3 separate regions of the Homo sapiens genome follow, and regions 2 and 3 are each linked to region 1. The links come from fine-mapping of genetic effects on gene expression. A gene starts in region 1. Each other region holds a variant in brackets. All regions are shown on one strand. Distances are between the middles of the regions. Region 1 holds the start of MAP3K1 (mitogen-activated protein kinase kinase kinase 1). Region 2 has its middle 64 kb from the start of C5orf67. Region 3 has its middle 81 kb from the start of C5orf67.

What was found.
Region 2: its variant is fine-mapped to the expression of MAP3K1 in whole blood (TOPMed, PIP above 0.99). The same link has a PIP of 0.9 or more in monocytes.
Region 3: its variant is fine-mapped to the expression of MAP3K1 in whole blood (TOPMed, PIP above 0.99).

The regions. Positions count from the first base shown.
Region 1 is chr5:56,811,970-56,818,766 of GRCh38, reverse strand. It overlaps MAP3K1 (mitogen-activated protein kinase kinase kinase 1), which reads right to left and starts at 3,218. Exons shown (of 20, transcript NM_005921.2): 1 at 2,712-3,218. The coding sequence starts at 3,193. RefSeq lists silencers at 2,121-2,360, 2,541-2,660, 2,731-3,500 and enhancers at 1,586-2,409, 3,861-3,990.
Region 2 is chr5:56,666,696-56,673,492 of GRCh38, reverse strand. No RefSeq gene overlaps it. Among named protein-coding and RNA genes, the nearest start is that of C5orf67, 64 kb to the right of the region's middle. RefSeq lists an enhancer at 2,998-3,047 and a silencer at 2,997-3,291. The variant A/G (reference allele first, on the strand shown) is at 3,356.
Region 3 is chr5:56,683,502-56,690,298 of GRCh38, reverse strand. No RefSeq gene overlaps it. Among named protein-coding and RNA genes, the nearest start is that of C5orf67, 81 kb to the right of the region's middle. RefSeq lists an enhancer at 3,542-3,691. The variant A/G (reference allele first, on the strand shown) is at 3,577.

The DNA.
Region 1 (6,797 bases):
TTTTTTAAGTTACAAAAATAGGATGGGGTAATTATATCTACCAAACTCACAATAGGCTGTTCAATGGAGAGTAACACTGTAATTTTTCTTCAAAGACAGTAAATAGGAAGAAAAAGCCCCTAAATTCTGTAATATAAGGAAAAATTCCAAACCCTTGGGCGCCACTTACAGGCACTTTCACTGATTTCAGCTATCACCCTGAAAAAGAGGGACAAACTTAAAATCTTCTATTTAAATACGAGTATTATTTATTTATATAAATTCTAATTCAAAGTATATTTTCTACATTCAAAGATCAGAAGGAAATTCTAAAATTAAAAAAAAGATCACAGAACTCTCAAATATTTCAAAATCTTAGATTTTCCTCTTGGAAGTATGAATGTAACTTAACTGTCAAAAAAAAGTAAAACATAAAGTTCAATTGATATTTTATTGAGTTGGCTATAATTAAGGGTTTTTTTTCCTAAAACTTTAAATGGTAAGTAATAGTGTAGCATAACCAACATGCAATACAAAATATACACACTCAAATAAGATACAAGCCCTTTCCCCACAAAGTTTTATACGAACAGATTCAAATGAATTTCAACCCAATTGTTAAGAAAAAAAAATTCACTATATTTCATAAGGTTAGGGAATCAACATTTTACTATAAATGAAATCTTTACGTATGACATTTGGGATAAACCAACAGCATTCTGACTCGTAAAAATAATTTCTTTAAAAAAGATTATCCTTACAAGCCCATTATTTTCTTATACTGTGCAATTATAATCTACACCTTAAGCAAAGGGGAAAAAACCTCGGTTACAAAACGCAAATACTAAGCATGGATTACTTAGTCCCTAAATTCTATCTGCCTCCACCTTAGTCCTCTTATTTTGTGTCAAGAGACAACATTAAACAATTTCAGTACATTATTTTTACAGTGGATGCTCTTCTACTATATTCACAGCTCATTAAGAGTACTAGAATGCTGACGTTTGCTAAATTATTTATTGTATCCAAAAAGTTAGGTCTCAATAGATACAATTTCTTAAATTTGGGGTTAAAAATTTTTATCTGGAATTCATTTAAAGTAGAAGTTGCCTTCAAAGAATTATTCCAGTTAAGTTTTAATACAATCTGCACAGAAATGGGAAAACTATAGAGGTACATAACTCTTGTAAGAATAAATTACATGTACAAGTGCACACAAAACTGTATCAGTCACAAATCTCCTTTGGTCTCAGTAGTGCCATGGTACAGTGCGAAGCATATTTTTTAGTTCTTGGGGAGAGGAAGGGGACTTCCAAATACTAAATGGATCGTGATTTTAAGCAAATAATCAAATGCACAAAAAATGCCAGATCACTTTAGATAATGAATCCAAACCAAGGACTCCTACTGTCAAATTCGTCTCACAAAATGACACGCTTTCTTCTCATAATAAAGGTCAGGGAATTCTACAGGGCCACGAGGGACTATCACAAAAACATTTCCAGCAACTCAAAATACCCATCAAGACTTTGTACTTTGCATACGTTAATCAGGTTTTTAAAAAACAAACAAACAAGGATGTAGCTGTCACACTTAAAAGAATTTCCTTTAACATAAAAATTTCCAGTAGCCAAAAATGGGCGAGGCCAATAAACCGCTGGTCTAAATTACCTTACACATACTGTACTTCATATGCACCAGAAGACGCATCTGAGCCGAAGCCCACCGCACTGCGGCCCCTGGAATTCAGCGGGCGGCCCGCGCCAGGGCACCGAGCAGGAAGCACTGCACCCGCGCCGCAGTCCCCGGGCCAAGCCGGAGGGGCTGCGGGGAGCAGTCACCACTGCTTTGAAACTGAATGGCTGACACATCCGGTCCTGGCTCTTACACCACTCCGCCAAATGCAAACTTCAAAGGCCAAATTCAAACTCCAAACAGAAGTCACTCAAGTGACTTAGCAGTGCAGTTCGCATTCCCAGGAACACTCAAAGCCCCTTGGGGGCTGCAATTAGACAAACCGCACTTCCTAAAAGACTGCAAGCCTCCGCGAGTGTGCAGCCTCCCGCCGCACGGCTTTGACAGGCGTTACCGAGCCGTCCTCCTGGAGCCCTGCGGCCGGCGCTGGGGGCGCGCCGCCTGCGTCCGGGCCCAGCCCGCGGTATCTGCCTAGGGACTCGAGTCCCGGGCGGGCCGAGGGGCTCTGCCTGTCACGGCCGCTGGGACCTGCTACTTTCTCTTCGGTCCTCTCAGTCTCCCACCCGACCTCGGGCTTCTCACCCACCCCGCCCCTCTTCCGACCACCGCCCGCCTCAGGCTCGGGCCTCGCCCCCCAGTGCCTTTGCCCCGGGGACACCCGTCCGGGGGCGCCGCCGCAGGGCCGTGCCCCGCCCCCGGGCTCCTCGGAGAGCCCCGATTCCAGGAGTCCCACAAAGCCAGCCGTGGCCCCCTACACCTTTTCGCAACGGTTCCCCGCAGAGAGGCTCGCACGCCTGTCACATGTCTGCAAACAATAACAAACTCTTCCGCACGTCCCCGTCCGGTCCCCCAGGCTGGGTCCGGGGCGCCGCCCGACTCCGAAGGGGTCGGGGGGTGCTCAGGGGCGTAGGTCCCGGCGAGCGGCGCGTAGCCTCGCTGCGCTGAACCCCGGGACGCCGTGCATGGTGCCCGGGGTTCATTCATTGCCCTCTGCCCGCTCTCCAAGTCCCCGCCGCGACCCCGGCCGTGCTGCTCACCCGGCGGGGGCCGCTGCAGGAGACGGCTCGGCGGCGGGCGCCCGCTTCTCCCCGGGCTCGGCCGCTGCGGGACTCGAGGCGCCGCTGTCCGGCGCCGCCACCGACTCGGTAAGGTGGGCGCCGCCGCGGCTCGCGGCTCCGTGGGGCGGCGGCACCGCCACAGGCTGGAAGCCGGTCCCACTCCCCGCTGCGTCCGCGGGCTCCGGCGACGGGGAAGTCGAGGAGGCCGGCGGTGAGGCGGCAAGGAAGAGCGGCTGCTCAGGCAGCTGGTCCAGCTCCACACTCCGCACTTTGCGCAGCTGCCGCCGCCGCCAGTCCGCCCGCTCGCGGCCCCCGCTGCCCGCCTCCCGCAGCAGTCCCGCGGCAGCCGCGGGCGCGCTGCTCGCCTTGAGGGCTCCTCCGCCGCCGCCTGCCTCAGGGCTCGTAGCCCTGGCGCCCGGGAATCCCGACGACGAGGCGCGATTCCCCGCCGCCGCCGCCATTTTCTCTCGCGGGCTACATTCGCTCGGCCCCTGCGAGGGAGGGAGGGGGCGGGGAGAGCGCAGGGGGCGGGCACTGCGCCGCCAGCGTAAGGCCTCCTGCGCCAACTGCGTGAGCGCGGCCCGCCGGGCGCCTGGCCTGGACTGACCGACGGGCGGGCGCACTGGGTCCGGCCTGCGGCAGAGGTGTGGGTGGAGGGCGGCCCGGCGGCCGCAGGTGGGAGGGAGTGGGCTGTGCTCTCCGCCGGGCGAGAGGGCGGGCGGGCGAGGTGGACTGGGAGGCGGAGGGGGCGGGGGCGGAGGCGGAGGCGTGGGCTCCCGGGACTCTGCGCGCTGCACGCGCCGCGCCGCCAGGTAGTCCCGGCCGCACCGGCGACAGGAGGAGCCTTGGCGGCAGCGCTGCGCCGCTTCCTCTCGGCAATCTCGGCCCGGCACCGCGGAGCTCGCGGGAGGGGAGTTGCACCTTCCGAAAGAAAGAATTAGTTCCAACTTGGGTTTCTGGTGCTTGAAGGGGACGCAGGCGAGAGGGTTTACAGTCTGTCATTCCCACTGCCCTTTGCAGTGGGCGTCGGGGGACCCGGGCGTGGACCAGCCTCCCACCGACGCGCAGGTGGCGCCCGGGACCGTCGCCTGCTGCAAAGCGAAAGCAAGTCAACGTTCAGCAGACAGGCTGCCGCGGACCAGAAAAATAAAGTTTTGTTTGTGTTTTCTTTTGAAAAGAAAACATTCCTTCTCTATTGTCCCACCCCTGTCCCTGTGCTACAGATAACAAAACTTCAAAGTTTTCTGTAATACCTTACATCCTGAAGCTGCTGATTTGGGACAACTACCCCCTACCCTCACCAAGTCCCCACAGCCTCTGAGAAACCGTTGGGGCGAGGAAGGGAGGCGGGTGTCCCCGTCGATCTTTAGTTTTTCCTTGGCTGTCTTTGGGAAAGGCAGTCCCGTACAGAACCACATATAGCGCGTTTGGGGAGGGGACCAGCGCTGTGCCAGGAAGTGCTCGGTAATGTCACCCTCGGCCAGGTCCCGGCCCTCCCCGAATCCGATGCTTCTCGCCGCACGTCCTTCTTCCCTGCAGGGTCGGGCCACCGGCCGGGTTCCCTCTGTCCCCACTCCTGCAGGGCCTGGCTGCCCATCGCTGCGTTGTGAGTCCTCCTAGTCCCTGGACTCTACGTGAGAAGGTGCTTTGGGATGGAAAAAGCAACATTTACACGTTAATGATTTTTGACCTTTTGTCAACTGAGGAGAACTTCTGTGTTGCGTTTATTTCTTCCTTCCTTTCCTTTCCTCCAGCTGGTTTGTTTAGGATGGGGAATCTCCCAAAACCCAGGAGGAACGTCTATAGATTTACTTTGTGAAACATGATTAAGGAGGGGGGAGGTTGGGGTGGGGGGGTGCGGATTCTCACGGAGATAGTCTTGTCAGTCTTCACATATTTAGACAAAAGCCTGAACTATTTACAGAATAATTCCATTGACTTCTGGAGACTAGGTAAAATGAAAGCCCCTTTCCCAGATACAATGTTAACTGCGTAACCAGGTTAGATCAGAGGGGTTTTAAAAAGTCCAGATTTCATATTAGCTCAATGATTTGAAAACTGCTGTAACATCTCCCATAAGATAGTTTTAGATCGTTACACCCAACGGTACAAATTTTGAAAGTTCAGATAAATCTGTTAAAAATTAAGTCTACATTTAGGCTATAATTATATGCTATTTTAATGGCAGTCAAATGTATCATTCAAACCAAACAGTGGTTATTTCTCAGGTCTTCCTGGGTTGCCACACCCACCAAATCCTAAACTGAAACGGATAAACTTTCCTTGTTCCTATTTTGATCTAAAGACTTTTACATTTGCACGCACATATTCAGGTACCTGTAAGTGAGAAAAGTAAGTGGAAGACTTTAGCCAGAGTAGCAGAGTAAAAAGGAGATTCCAGCAAAACTGATTTTTGACTGTTTGTACAGTGGTTGAAACTGGGGATCAAAGGGAGAGGGCTACCCAGCGCAGCACTATGAACTAGCTACAATTCTCTCACTTCCTCCATCCACCACGTATTACCATGGAGAAACCTAAGTGTTGGTATTTTCCCACAGTTTTTGTTGCTTTGAGTCATTTTTTTCTTTGTTTACGTAAATATTCAGGTTGTCATTATGCATCTGCATATGGACACACTGATTTCTTAAAGAGAGAATCAAAGGACATGCTTAACTGAAAAGGGTGTTCTCCCTCTGCCATATGTTAATAGAAGTTTCTGAGTCTAATGCGTGATTAAGACTCTAGCTGGTTTTGGTGCTCTTCAGTCCTGCTATGTTACTGCAGAGAGGTGGATGTCAAATATCAAGTACTGTAGGCTCTGAATTCTCTTAATATGATTTATTTAATAACATTCAGGAGACTTGTATTTCTTCCAAGGTTGTTTCTAGACTGAAAGCTCCAATTCCTGTTTCCAAGCTCTTCATTTCCATCCTCACTGGGACGTAAACCTTGCAATGATTTCACGCATGCAATTTCATGGCAATTTCATGACCATTTCAATAACCTTAATACCAGTGCATTACAGATCACTGCCTCCACATAGTGCTTCTGGAAACTGCCTACATCACACTTCAGTTCCTGCAGCATATTCACGTTGAGGATCCACTTTGACACTGGGCATTTCCTCACTGTACATAAATATCACAAATATTAGAATGAGCAGACATAATATACATTGGGAGAAATATTTCAGCCTGTACATCATTCATCATATATTTAGTAAGCACCTACTGTGCATATGCAGGAATTTTTCTTCTCTGAGGATATTGTTTGTTGTTTTTCATTTCTACAAAAATGAATAAACAAAATATTCCAATCTACAGATATTTTTATTAGTGGGTATTTATCAGGCTGACTGGTAGAATTCCAGATCCATCAGTATGTGAATGTATTCACATATTCATGGCTGTTTGTGAGATCTATACCTCAGATAAACATAAAAGAATAATATAACCTTGAGAATAGGGTAAAAGCTGGTGTTCTTTCAAGCTTACAAATATTTATTATGGAATACTTGCAGGAGTGCTGGGGCTAGAATTTGGTTTCTGCATGTTCTTTCCAGACAACATACTTCCCAGGTGTTTTCAGATGTTCTAAGTCAGAAAATCCTGTCATCAGTGGGATAATTGGTTCCCTACAAGGGCACTGTAAATGACATTATAGTAGAAGGTCTCTTAACCAGCCTCCATTTAGCTGACTCATCCAGTAACAGATACCAGCCATTACTGTGTGGTGTACAACATGCAGAGGGATGATACAGCACAATAAATGCTCAGGCCAGCGGCTGGTGTGCACCTGCATACTTCTGTTCCCACTAGGTGAGTTATGGGTCCCATGAGAATCCATTGTGCTTGTTCCCAAACTTGATTCCACCTATTACAATGTTCCTTGTGAAATTTAATTAAATATTACACAATTGATTATTAAATTTAAAAACATGAGTATGTGTGTGCGAAAAGAAAGTTGTTCCAGTGAAAATGAAGTGAAATGCTTTGAGAGAAAAGTGATTGAAACTGGGGATCAAAGTGAGGCAGTACCCAGTGCAACACTTATCAACTAGTTAAC
Region 2 (6,797 bases), 150 kb after region 1:
CTCGCTCACTCTGCTCTGGTCACCCTGGCCTTCTCGCTGTTCCAAGAATATGCCACTCCTACTTCAGGCCTTTACTTTTGTTCCCCCTCTGCTTGGAAACGGCTTCCTCCAGATGTACACAACGCTTGCTTCCTCATTTCTTTCAAGTCTGTTTATCAGTGAGTCCATCTTATATATGACATTAGCAACCACCCTTCCTTACTGCTGCAGTCTGGTACCCACTCACCTACTTTCTCACTTTCTTTTTCCCCATGGCACATATCAATATCTGACATATTATGGCTATACTTGTTTATTGCTTGTCTGTTTCTTGCAGTAGATATGAGATCCAAGAGTGCAGAAACTTTGTTCCCTGCTGCGTCTCCATCACCTAGAAAGTACTGGACACATGGTAGGCATTCACATTTTGTCAGACTATTACGTGAATGAAATGAATGGCTCAACATAATCACTGCTAAGAACAAGAGCTCTTGCAAAGCCTCTGTAACCACAAGTAAAAATATTTGTGTTTACTAAAGTCTTTCAGTACCTTAATTTGTTTGCTTTGGTAAATAGAGTCAGAATTTAACATGGAAAAACTCTGAACTCTCCTAGTTGATTTCCTTGAGGCTGACCAGCTTGGAGTGGTTATAAAACACAGACAGGTATTTAAAATTGCCTGGATGTAGCCAGATGCAGTGGCTCATGCCTGTAATCCCAGCTCTTTGGGAGGCTGAGGCAGGCAGATCACTTGAGGTAAGGAGTTCTAGACCAGCCTGGCCAACATGGTGAAACCCTGTCTTTACTAAAAATACAAAAATTAGCTGGGCGTAGTGGTGCATGCCTGTAATCCCAGCTACTCAGGAGGCTGAGGCAGGAGAATCACTGGAACCCAGGAGGCAGAGGTTGCAGTAAGCTGAGGTTGTGCACTCCAGCCTGAGCGACAGAGGGAGACTCAGTGCCTGAATTTCTGTAAGGGATACTAATCTGGTTGGAAAGGAGATGTGGGTCTCTAAGCTGAATTAAGGTGGTTATTTGTATAAGAACATGAGAAAAACATCAACTGCTCATTTCAAAGAACGAAAGAGTGATAAAGGCTGCCGATAGGATTTGGACAGGGAAGGAAGGTACCGAAGCTGTCTTCCTCAGAAGCATAAACACATGGGAGTTAGTCCTACTAAGTAACAGTGTGGACTCGAAGTAGTCCCTGAAATTTCTTTGAACCTCAGTTTCCTCACCAGTGAACTGAGGGGCTTAGATATATTATTTATAAGGTCAATTCCAACCCTATTTTCTGGTGGTGAGATCAGGTCTCAGATTTATATTCTCAGACATAACTTTCATTAAATTGGAAATTTGAGATCCAGTTTCTTTTTCTGCAAAATGAAAAGTTTGACTAAAATGAACTCTAAGGTTTTTATTATTATTTTTTAACAGGTCTAATATTCTTTGTTTTCATTGTGTTTTTGGATTTTTTTTCTCTGCCCAATTGGCTCTGGTAAAATTTAACCTCTTCATTATGATTATTGGTTGCTTCTTTTGTTCGTTTCTTTGAAGTTGTGGTCACACACACACACACACACACACAAAATGTGAAGATATGTCACATACATTTGTAGATGCAGTGTGTGCTATCTTGCTGTTGGTGACCACTAACTTTGCCTTGAGACAGGGTGTGGAGCAGAGATACATCCTTGAGGTTTGTTTTATTCTCTAAACTTGACAGTGAGAGGACAGGAAATGGTCCATTGAGAAACTGGTGACCAAAAAATGCTGAAATTCTTCTTTAACCTCAGTTCCAGTCAATTCACATTGGAAACCGCAGTGCTTTTAAATTGCGCATTCCTAATTCTCTGATTTCTCACCCCTGTGGCTTGTTTTAGGGTCTCTAGGTGTATATTCAGTCAGCTGAACCACTCGAAGGGCCTGGTCACACCTGTGTCTTACCTTTGTGCCTCCATTTCTACAAGTACAAAGACATGGAGGAAACAGAAATTTTGCTACCTCCTTTCAGTGTTAAGTTTGAGATATCCTGATAAAAACCTTCAAAAAAGGGACTGAATGTTATTATTATTTTTTAAAGTAAAGACAAGAGGTTTATGTCCTACAGTTCTGGAGTCTGGGAAGTCCAAGGTTGAGGGTCCTGCATCTCTGAATGTGAATTTTTAACAAATGTGTTGGGGCTGGAGGGTTGGGGTGAGTTGGAATGGGGACAGAGCTCTTGAAAGATGCTTATTAAATCTGCAGTCCTTTCTAACAGACTTTTACAGGTAGGAACGCTTTCTTTGAGAAAGATGCACAGAGCTTGTCCTCTTCCCTTGAAAGCCATGGGCAATGAATGATAAAGTAGTTAGTCATCACAGAGCACTGGTGACTTAACTGCTCAAATCAATAAATATTCCCATTTCCATTGACTCATTTAATGGGAAAAGAAGGTCACATGTCAAGAAAGAGGGAGGGGATGGAAGAAAGGAGAGAATGAGTGAGACAGGAATTTTGAAATGTATTAGAACGTGTTTTTTTCTAACATTTTAGTATGAAGATTCCCAAATTACAGGAAAGTTGAAGGAATTAAACAGGGTATACCCATTTACTCACAACTTGGATCCTGCAATTAATATTTTGCTATAATTGCTTTATTACCTCTATTGATCCTCTCAAGAGTAGCAGTCTGTGAGTTTTGATGAAGGCTTACTTGTGTGACCCAGTCCTAACCGGATATAAAATATAACCTTCATCTCAGAAAATTCTTTCTTGCCCCTTCCCAGGTAATCCCTGCTCCTACCTCACAGCCAGAGGCAACCACTATTCTAATTTTTAAAACTGTAGATTAGTTTTGCCTATTTTTGAATTCCATGTTAATAATACCATACAGTATGAGCTCTTTTGTATGTGAAGCTTCTTTCATTTACCATAATATTTTTGAGATACAGTCAGGTTGCTGTGTGTAGCCATTTATTTTTTAAACCACAATAATCTCTATTCATTTTTAGAGAGTCTCAGGTTAAGAGTTTCTTCTAAAAGCAACAGGAAAAATAAGCTGTTGTTTTTTTTTTTTTTTTAAGATAGGGGAGAGAGAGTTGAAAGGAACCTGAGTGAAAGGTACTTTGGCCTCTTAATTTTCATGATAAAGAAGTTGAGGCCCCGTCATTGCTCTGGGGCACGCAGACTGAGCTGAAACTGGAACCCAGGTCTCCTGATTCACGGCTTGAAAGGGTTAGGAAGGCAGCTGAGTAGGGTGGTTGTTTGAGCTGAAGCCATGTGAGAATAGAGAGTTTCGACAGAGCTTTGCTTTAGAGGATGTGAAACTACAGTAACCTCATGTGACAAAAAATCCTCCGAGGCCTTGGTATGGAGCCAGAGGAGGAAGTTTGAC[A/G]TGGCCTCTGGTTACCAGCTCCACCTCTGAACCCACTGGCCCAGGATGACTTATGGTGAGCTCTCTGATTTGCAATAAAACTAGACATGGGACAGAGAAAGCTTTTCTGCACCATGCACAAGGCAGGACAATGCTAAAGGAGGGGGGGGAAAAAAAAACAAGAAAGACACCTTCAGCCACATGGCCTTCCCATAGCAGGGGACCCAGAGCTGAAAATAAAACACCCAGGGAGGAAGGGATGCTGTGGTTACAGACAGAGCCTTTGTCTCCCAAGTGCATGTTCCAATTCAGCCCAGGATGACAATGACCTGGAGGTTCCTGCCTGCCAGCTGTTGGCTGGCCTTTGTGAAAGTCCCCGAGCTCCAGGCCAATGCTTAGCGGGCAGGTATCCATATCGTGAAGCCAATTGGCACTGCTGGTACCTTTGTTGATGATGTGAGCACAGCCACTGGGAACCAAGGCTGCTGGTGCACTCTTGCTACCAGCTGGCAGGTGCAAACCCATGGGCAGGTGCCCTGGGGAGAGACGGTTCATGCTGCCATGGTAACCGATAAAAAAAAGGAGGTTTCTTCAAGGTCAGTTTGCCCTTTTTTCTGCTAGAGGATATTGTGAGGAAGAAATGAATTTGTGGCAGCCCTGACTTGTGTGTAAATGTGTCCTTCATCTGTTTTGAATTGACACTTCTAATTGGATCTAATATTAGTGTCACCCACTGGGCAAATCTGGGTATTGGTGGGTCTCCTGGGCTATGTCATTGTGGACAAAGATCAAGTCACCAGAGAAGTCCCAGAAGAGACGTTCCAGTGTAAACCAAGCAGGATTGAACAAAGAATTCCAAAAGTGATTTTGAAAAGGCTGACAGTCAGGTTGGACAGGTTCTTCGGGCTATTCCAGGATGTGAAATTAATGCGGACTGTCTGAGGCGTGTCACCCTAGATGTCCTTTAGCCAAACTGTCCTAGGTGCAAGGAAGAAGGGACCCTTGTCAGCTTGCTTGGTGCCTCACGAGTTTGTCACAATGCATTCATTGTAAAGAAGCAAGCTTTCCTTATCATCATTGTCCTTCTCTCTGTAAACCTTCTGCTCATGCCTTTACCTTGGGCAAATACATTTTCTGGCTTTGATTTAAAAGTTCAGCTTCTTGATATTAATATTTCTGCGCTTCATTCTGATAAAAGTTGTTCTGACTCAGGTCATTGGCTTGGGTGTCAGTAATTTTCCCATTTAGCCTCTCTTGTGTGTTTTTCATATTCTGAGATTTCTGTTGGCAGAAATAACAGCATTGTATTAATTAATTAATTAGTAGCATTGTGTTATTGCAGGGGCTTCATGAACCCCTGGGAGAATTTTACTCTGTTCTGCTTACTGGGATGCTACCAAAATTATTTAGTACCCTGACAATCAGAAATATCATTTTTTTGGATAAACTCTAAGCAACTTGCCTGCAAGTATAACCATGGAGGTTGGCCTCAGCTTCCCAATGTACAAAATGAAAAGATTAGATTAAATGATGTCTTCAGGTACTTGCCAGCTGGTTTTCTAAGATGTTTGATTTTAACATAAAAAGAAAACCTGTGAATATATTCAACAAATAACAAATGGAATTTACAAAGCTCTGCACTGGATCCTTGTATGCAGTAAATATTTATAATTCATCTACCAAGTCTGGGTGCTGGGGCTATGGAAGCGGATACAGCATCATTTTCTATTCTGAAGGATCTCATAGCCTAATGAGGGAGGGGTCACAAGAAAAAAATTCTTCTCAAAATTGGCAGGAGTTTGAAGACAAAATTCTGCTTGGGAAAAGAACTTACCTTTTGGTTTGGAAGAGCTTCTAAACTGACATGTTTAATGTAGAAAGATAAGTCTTTTTCCCTGAGCCCCCTCAACTGGCAGGGCCATAACTAAGGTGATATTGAGTGAGGCACTTGCCTGGGATACAAAAAAAAAAAAAGGGGTCGAGGGGGATGTCAAAAAACTTCGTGGTTAAGATAAACTGCACTATAAAGTAGTCTTTTAAAAATCAAAATTAATGAAAACAAAATCCCTGATGAACAAAGGATGAAAATTTAAAATAAAGAGAGGATCTGATCCTGCATGTGTATATACCCTTTCCTCACTTTCCTCCCCCTAATCTTGGCCCTGGTTCTATTAAAATTTTATACAACTTGTAATTTGATTTTTAAAAGCATAGCATTAAAATATTAGAATATTTTAATATTAATATAATTGAATATTTTATATTAAAATATAAAATATCACAATAATATTAATTAGCATAATTAATTTTAATATTACTATTTATTAATATTAATTTTATTACAAATCTGGAGGCATCACATTACTGAACTTCAAACTGTACTATAAAGCCATTGTCACCAAGGGATGGGGGGGTGGCGAGGTATAACAGACTACACATAGGGTACAGTGTACACTGCTTGGGTGATGGGTGCACCAAAATCTCAGAAATCACCACTAAAGAACTTATTTGTGTAACCAAACACCCCTTTTCCCCCAAAAAACTATTGAAATGAAAAAGTTTTTAAAAAAGAACATTAAAAAAACTTGCCAATTTGATTTTAAAGACAATTGCATTAAAATAGTAAACTATTTTAATATTAATATTAATGTAATATTTTATATTGAAATATAAAATTTTATGCTAAAATATAAATATTAAAATAATAAAGTTTAGACAAAAAAAGAGTAGAACAGAATTTAGGGTTTTAGAAGGCTGTCAATAGAGGGAAAAAAGAAGTCTGTGGAAGGAGCCTGGGTTTCTAGAAGATGGTGGTACATAGCTGAGAAAGTCTTCATAGTGGAGAATGGTTTGTGAATATTTATGAAAGAGGTATCTAATAAGGGTTTTGAAGTTGTTCCTCACTCTGTGTTGCCTTTTATCCCCCTTTACCCACTATCCTTCAGTTAGAAATCTGATACATACAATAACCCTTGAATTTATGCTGAGTTGAGAAATAGGACGGAAGAAGGGTGTTGTCCAGCATGTCCAGGAAGTGGGCTAATGAGAGAGTAGGAAAGATGTAGAAACCAGGAAGGATGTAGCAAGGACCGCCTCAGGAGAAGGGAGAGGACTGCGTGGGTGGGTGGCTCTGGATATTCTGAAGTACAGAGGGTGCAGCCTTGAGCTCTAGTGTTTTGTAAAATTAAAGGGAATCTCTTAGGCAGCAGACACTTGGCATGCCTGCGAATCAATCACGACAGTACGTTGTTGTGGCCAGTCTTTGGTTTGTCCCTCCAAGGGAAAGGTCCACTTTCTTCCCTTGGAGGCTGCCCTGTATGGACCACAGGAAAGGGCTCCCTTGACCCTGGATTCCAGCTGGAGTTCCCTCCAGCACCAGCAGATAATTGGAAGGAGGGAGGAAGAGCCAAACTCAGGGCTTTTCCAGTGGCTCCTTTCCTGAGGGTTTGCTCCAGACTGGCTA
Region 3 (6,797 bases), 130 kb after region 1:
TGTAGGACAGGTCTCATAACCAAGTTTATGAAATGGCTGGACAAGATTAGAAGTTCAAGCTTTGGCCATGGAAAACAACAGATCTATTGGTCTGTGCCAGAAACAGATCACAAAAATCTCTCTGCTCTCATGAGCAGCAGCAGCAGCAGCAGCAGCAACATTTCACCAAGAGTGCAGGTCCAATCCGATGGGGATATCAGCTTCATGGGAGGCTGGGGGAGGACAGCAAGGAAGATCAGAAACAAACATGTTTAGAAAAATGTCCCCATTTTTCCACCTCAGGAATTGATTCTCAGAGTATGGTAAAATGCTTCCCTCCCCCTGAATGACAGTGAACCGAAAAGCCAGGACAGAGGTTTCTGTGTTAAAATGTTAATGTGAAGTCTCACTGTATTTTGAGTGCTTAAGGGAAAGCTAATGGGAACTTTCCAGGGAAGATGGTGGGTGTTGCTAACATGAAAATATGTATGAGAATTCCTAAATGGAGGCTTTATATGGTTCAGTTGGAGGATAATGAAATCCTAGCTTGTCGGGGATGGGTGGGTAGGGCAGAGGATGGGACTGGGTGAGAGTGGGGAGAAAGGGTAGAGAAGAAAGCCTGCTTTTGGACTCTGTGGGCTGGGGAGCTGCCTGTGTGAAGGGTCTAGAATGAAGGCTGATGGGGAAACAGAGCAAAACCGGGGCAGTGCCGGATGGAGAAACTTAAATGGCTGGAGAGCTAGACAGGAGGGAGGCCCCTGCCCAGAATGAGGATAGAAGCGTGGCACTGGACATGGAAAATACCAGGGGTTAGTTGAAAAAACAAAAAAAGAAATAATTCTTGAAGGACCATACTGGGAAGGACCTGTGGATTGAAAGGAAAGTGGCCTTTCAAAGTCCCGGTGAGTGATCATCAGCTTTGAACCTGTGCCAAGACAGTCAGGGTAATGGTTGCTTGGCTCTTTCTAACCTTTGTAGCTAAGGCCACGGCTGCCCAATTTGTCTAGGACTTGGGGGACAATCTTGTTTTTGCAAAGAAACTGGAACCCAAAGTTATAGTCCACAGTCATCATGGTGACCTGGGTTTTCAACTCCACTGCAGGGCCTGCTCCATCTTGTAACTGGCCTTTTGCCTTATTTCCTTTTGACTAAAACTCCATTTTGGGCCTTAGGAACTGCCCCTTTGTTTTACAGTTATATTTGATTGAGTACTGGCTACTGTGCTGGCACTCAACCTCACTATCTCATCTGTTCCTCATAATAACCCTATGAGTAAAGCAATTATTCCCAGTTGATAGATAAGAAAACTGAGGCTTACAGAGTTTTTGTTTTCTTGCTTGCCACAAATTATGGGTCAGAGCCAGGGTTTAATCCAGGCATTTTACCCCCAGAGCCCAGTGCTCTGGTCAGTGTCTTTCCCCCCTGCACCGGCTTCAACATTCAATCTCTGCCCTAATTCTTTGCAGCCCTGATTACACTGGGATGATCCTCCTGTATGTGCTGCTTTTAGTCCAGCCATTGAATACCTTCTACATTGTCTGCCTCCCTCATCTTTTGCTGATGATGCTCAGGGGTCTGCCTGCTCCCTGGGTCATGGTCATCTGACATGGACTGGTCCTGCTGCTTAGAGAGAACTCTGCTGGTAGTCCCTGAGCTCTCCTGCAGAGCTCCAACCATAGCAAGGTTCTCTCTGACTTAATCTGCAGTGAACTGGAGTTATGTGGGTGTACTCATGAGGACAGGCTGGAAGCAGTGTTCAGCCAGATAAGATGTGCACTCAGGGTGTGATGTTGGCTGGAGTGTAGGATCAGGCCTTCAGTGACCCCAAGTAGAAATGAGTCCTGTAGATTTTATTTCTAGATGAGCTGAGGAAGGACATTTTCCCCTTTAACGGTGAATTGGGGTCACTCCTTATGGGAATTTTTGGTATGCCTTGAAGGATTCTGCAGCAATTCATCTTGCACATGGCCTGCCCTTGGAGTGTGGGGCCTGGGGCTGTACACTGACATCCTGTTTTGGTTGGGCAGAGGTTCTTAGCCCTCGCCATTCATCACAATCACCTGAGTAGTTCCTAGGAACAGCTGAGCCCTGCGAGGCATCCTCAGAAGTGCAGCTTCAGATGGCCTGGAGTGATATCTAGACATCCATAGTTTTATAGAAATGTGCATAGAAAAGTGCAAAAATCAGGTGATTTTAATGCCCAGCCTGTGTTGCTAACCCCTCATGTGCTGGGTGGTTCTTGGGCAGGAACAGGAGCAAGGCAGGGTGACCTGATATTTTGCACTTTTTTATGAGATGCTTAGTTAGCTGTGGCCACAAAAGGAGACAGAGGAGAAGCTCAGCAAAACAAAGTTTATGCTCACAGGTCCTCGTGACAGGAGGCATGGTCGTGCCATGCAGGGGCACATGGAAAAACACCAGGGTGGTAGGAAGCAGAAGATAGGAACTGGGGGAAGATTTGGCCAGTGCCCCCAATAAATGGGGTTTTCATGAGAAAGGCAGGGCAGGGTAGACAGTTTAGGATTGGCTAGTTTGAATTATTTGGGGCAGCCTCTAAGATAGAGGGGTGGCCCCTAGTTGCCTGATACCTGGCCCTGGGTTAATTAAGGCAGAGGAATATTGCCTCCTTGGGTGCACAGGCAAGACTGGGTAGTTTTCTTATGAAAGGCTGGATTGGCTCATTTTCATATGAAAGGCTGAGCCCTTTGCCATCTCTAAGAATTGACTAGCCCCAAGAGAAACAGCCTCTTTCCAGCTAGAAAATAAAATAAAATTACACACACATGCGTGTGCACACACACACACAAAACCTGAGAAGAAAATAAATCGTTAATGTTGCTTTGCATTGTGAACCTTGAATATTGAGGAATGTAAATCTGATCAAAAAAAAGAAGGCTAGGCTCAGTGGCTCATGCCTATAATCCCAATACTTTGGGAGGCTAAGGCAGGAGGATTGCTTGAACCCAGAAGTTTGAGGCTGCAATGAGCTGTGATCCTGTCACTGCACCCCAGCCTGGATGACAGAGTGAGACCCTGGCTTAAAAAATAACAATAATAATAATACATAATAATTTTTTAAAAATTTAAAAATGAAAAAGAGCCAGGTAGATTCCTTAAAGTGTCCCAGAATGCTAGAGGAAGCTCACCATGTACTTGAAAGGTACCATGAGCCAGAGATTTAGAGAGGACACTGTAGCTGGGAGGCTGTTCTATGGGACTGGGAGTTGCTCAGCAGCAGCATGCATGAGGGAGCGTGCTTGGCTGGCAGGCTGCAAACTCTGAATTCTATGTGAATGTGGCCCCCAAGTTGCCCTGAAGCTTTGGACTGTTGTCTAATGAACTGCTCAAATGTGTTCAACTCTAGTAATCAGAGCTGCAAAGGCAGAAATGTGCTGGTGGGTGGGGGTGGGGGGGTGGGGAGAGAAATTTGGTAATTGGTTCCAGCCTGTGAAAGGCCAAGTAAAAGCGTGGATCATTATTTAAAGTGCAGTGGTCTTTGGATGATGGTTATGATGGTCCACATTTGATGCAAAAGAAAGCCAAATATATTTTAAACAGGATTCAAGAAATACAAAGTTAAGGATTTTCTTAGCAGAA[A/G]AGTAGAAAAGTGTGCATGCTGTTTACTTAGTTTTGCTCACATTTTTTTTTTTTTTAACTTTTTCAGTTCCTGTTTTTTAGCTTTTGTTTTTAAGCCTGTGGGCTCTCAGGGTCAAACTTAGGTTAATTGACGTGTTTTTTAAATCAAAGTTTTGAGATAAACCAAACTTTCATAGCTAGATAGTAAAGCCCTGATCACAAGGGTTTTAAAATCAAACAGGGGGTCTTTGCACACACGGAGCTCTGTGGCTTTGTGTCTGCATATGCATATGGCTACGTGTGAAGGCAGGAGTAAATGTTCCTTCAACTTGCTGAGCCTCCTCTGTAAATTGAGGGGTTTGGAACAGTGACCTGTAACTACAGAATATGGGCTAACAGTTGTTGGGCGCTTACTGTATGCCAGACACTAAATTCTTAACATGGATTATTTTATTTACTCCTCACCATGTTCCTAGATGTCCATACTATTATGATCACTGCCTCTGTTTAGAGATTAGGAACTGAGGTTTAGGGAGGTTAAGTAACTTTCTCAAGGTCACACAGCTAGTGAAGGCTGGAGCTGGGATTTTGATCCCAGACCCCATGATGATAATCACTCTGCTTACATGACCTCCCAAAATAACTTTGTCTCCACTTTGTTAAGATGAGTTCTCCAAGGCCAGCCCTCCACTGAGCCTATTTCCTCCTAGCCAAGTTGCGTTTTGTCATCTGTGCTGAGACATGAGTGGTTACACTGGGTCATGACTGTTAGGCCAACAGGTTAAGCTAATTCCAAATGTGGATAACTGAGTAAGAAGGACTTTAAGTTAGCTTTTCTTGATAACAGGAATGTAAGACTGTGAGCTGGAAGGAACACTACAGAATGAATCATTTTCATTAACAGCAACTTGCTGGTGCACCCATGTTCATAGCAGAGCTATTCACAATAGTCAAGAAGTAGAAGCCACACAAAGTGTATACGGATGGATGAATGAATAGACAAAATGTGGTATTTGCATGAGTAGAATACTATTCAGCCTTAAAAAGGAAGTTACTACATGGATGAACTTCAAGGACATTATGCTAAGTGAAACAAGCCAGTCACAGAAGGACAAATACTGTATGACTTCACTTCTATGAGATATCTAGAGTATGTGAAGTCATAAAAATAGAAGGTAGAAGGTGGCTGCCAAGGGCTGGGGAAGGGAGAAACAAGGAGTTGTTTAATGGATAGAAAATTTTAGTTTTGCAAGATGAAAAGGTTCTGGAGACTCATTGTACAACAGTGCAAATATACTTAACACTATTGAACTGAACAGTGAAAATGGCTAACATGATTAATTCTATGTATATTTCACCACAATTAAAACACAAACAAATAAAAGAATAAGTAACATTCTTGATCTGTGCACTGAAAATTGGTCTTAAGCCAAAATAACCTTACTGTCACATACCTTTAAAGAGATGCTTACAGTCTTTCTTTATGGGGGGAATTGTGAACATGAATTTAATGATTTGTCTTGAATGTTAATTTATTACTCTGAGTTTATTGTGCATCTATAGTGGTTAGAGGGCACAATAATTGTACCTACAGCATAGGGAATGTACAATGCATTTGGATCACTTAGCATAGTGAAAAATAAAATATTTGGAGAAATGACAAATTTTAAAAAGCAATTTTCCAGTTTTAAAATAGAAATACATAGTTTCTCCAAATTAATGCACTGGCAGATTGCTTTTTCACCTTACAGAATCTCTAAACACATCCACACGATTATATGAGGACCAGAACTGTCTTTCTGGATAACTGAGTACAGAACTATGCCAAGCCTTCCGTATAGACTAGTGAGCAGAACAAGTCTTCCTGGATGAACAGCCACTTCTGGGAAAACTAGGTGGAAATGCAGATTCAGCAACTCACAGCCCGGAACCTTTAGGTAAATTTTAACACAAGAGAATTGTCTCATGTACTGGCAGTAGCTCCTTCTGGAATGTATGCCCTGATGGACTTCATTCAGGGCAGGTTGCTGAAAATTTGTGTAGGATGTAAAAATCTGAATAACAGATTAGGAAGGAGCCCCAAGAAACAGTGTGGTTCATCAAGCTGCAAAGGCAGGATGTCTAAGTTTGGTTCCCCAAAAGCAAGCCCGACAGTAGATCTCACGTGCAGGTAGTTTATTTAGGAGTTGAACCCAAGAAGCAGGAATGAGGGGATGGAGAGAATGTGGCAGAAAGGAAAATATTAGGGTATGTTATCAAGGCTGATGCTGTGGACAACGGGAGCATGGTTACCCTGGCGTTCTAAGAAGTGCATGGAAAGTCTCCAGATTGTCCTTTGTTATGCTGGAGCCTGGGGCACTTCTTCACAGTTCTCACGCCTCATTGCTTGAGGATTTCCAAGCTGACTTGAAAGTGGCCTGCCTGGGCTCCCACACCTTCACAGGAGGTCCTGAGGCAGAAAGCAAGAAAATGACCTGAGATTTCTAGAACTCAATGCCAAAACCAGGGCTGAAATCAGAGGTGGGCTGAGGAGATGTGATGTGAGCACAAAGAGTTGACTGGGAAGTCACTTAATATGAGTCCTTGTAAGCCACTCATATTAAGTCCTTGTGGCATACATGGAGAAAGGCAGTGTGGTGTAGTGGTTAAGCCTGTGGGCCTGTATCAGACAGCCTAGGTTTGAATCCTGATTTCATCAACTTTATCAGGCACATGTTCTTGAAGAAGCCACTTTTCTTAGTCCATTTGAGCTGCTGTAACAAAATACCTTAGACTCAGTAATCTGTAAACAGAAATGTATTGCATACAGTTCTGGAGGCTGCAAAGTCCAAGATCAAGGAACTAGCAGATTCAGTGTCCGGTGAAGGCTGCTCTCTCTGCTTCAAAATGGTGCCTTCTTGCTGTGTCTTCACATGGCAGAAGGGGCAAGGGAGCTTCCTTGAGTCTCTTTTATAGGGGCACGAATCCCATTCATAGGGCAGAGCCTCATAACTTATCACTTTCCAAAATGCCCCACCGCTTAATACCATCACACTGGATATTAGATTCCAGTATAAGAATTTTGGGGGTACACAAACATTCAGATCATAGCAATGCTTAACTTCCCTATGCCTTGGTTTTCTCATCTGTGAGATGGTGCTATAAAAGCTTCCTGGCAATGTCACATAGATGGTCTAGATCATCCAGGTGGCACACTTAGCATTCTGGCAGTTATAATGATACAGCAGGTTGACTTTCCCAGG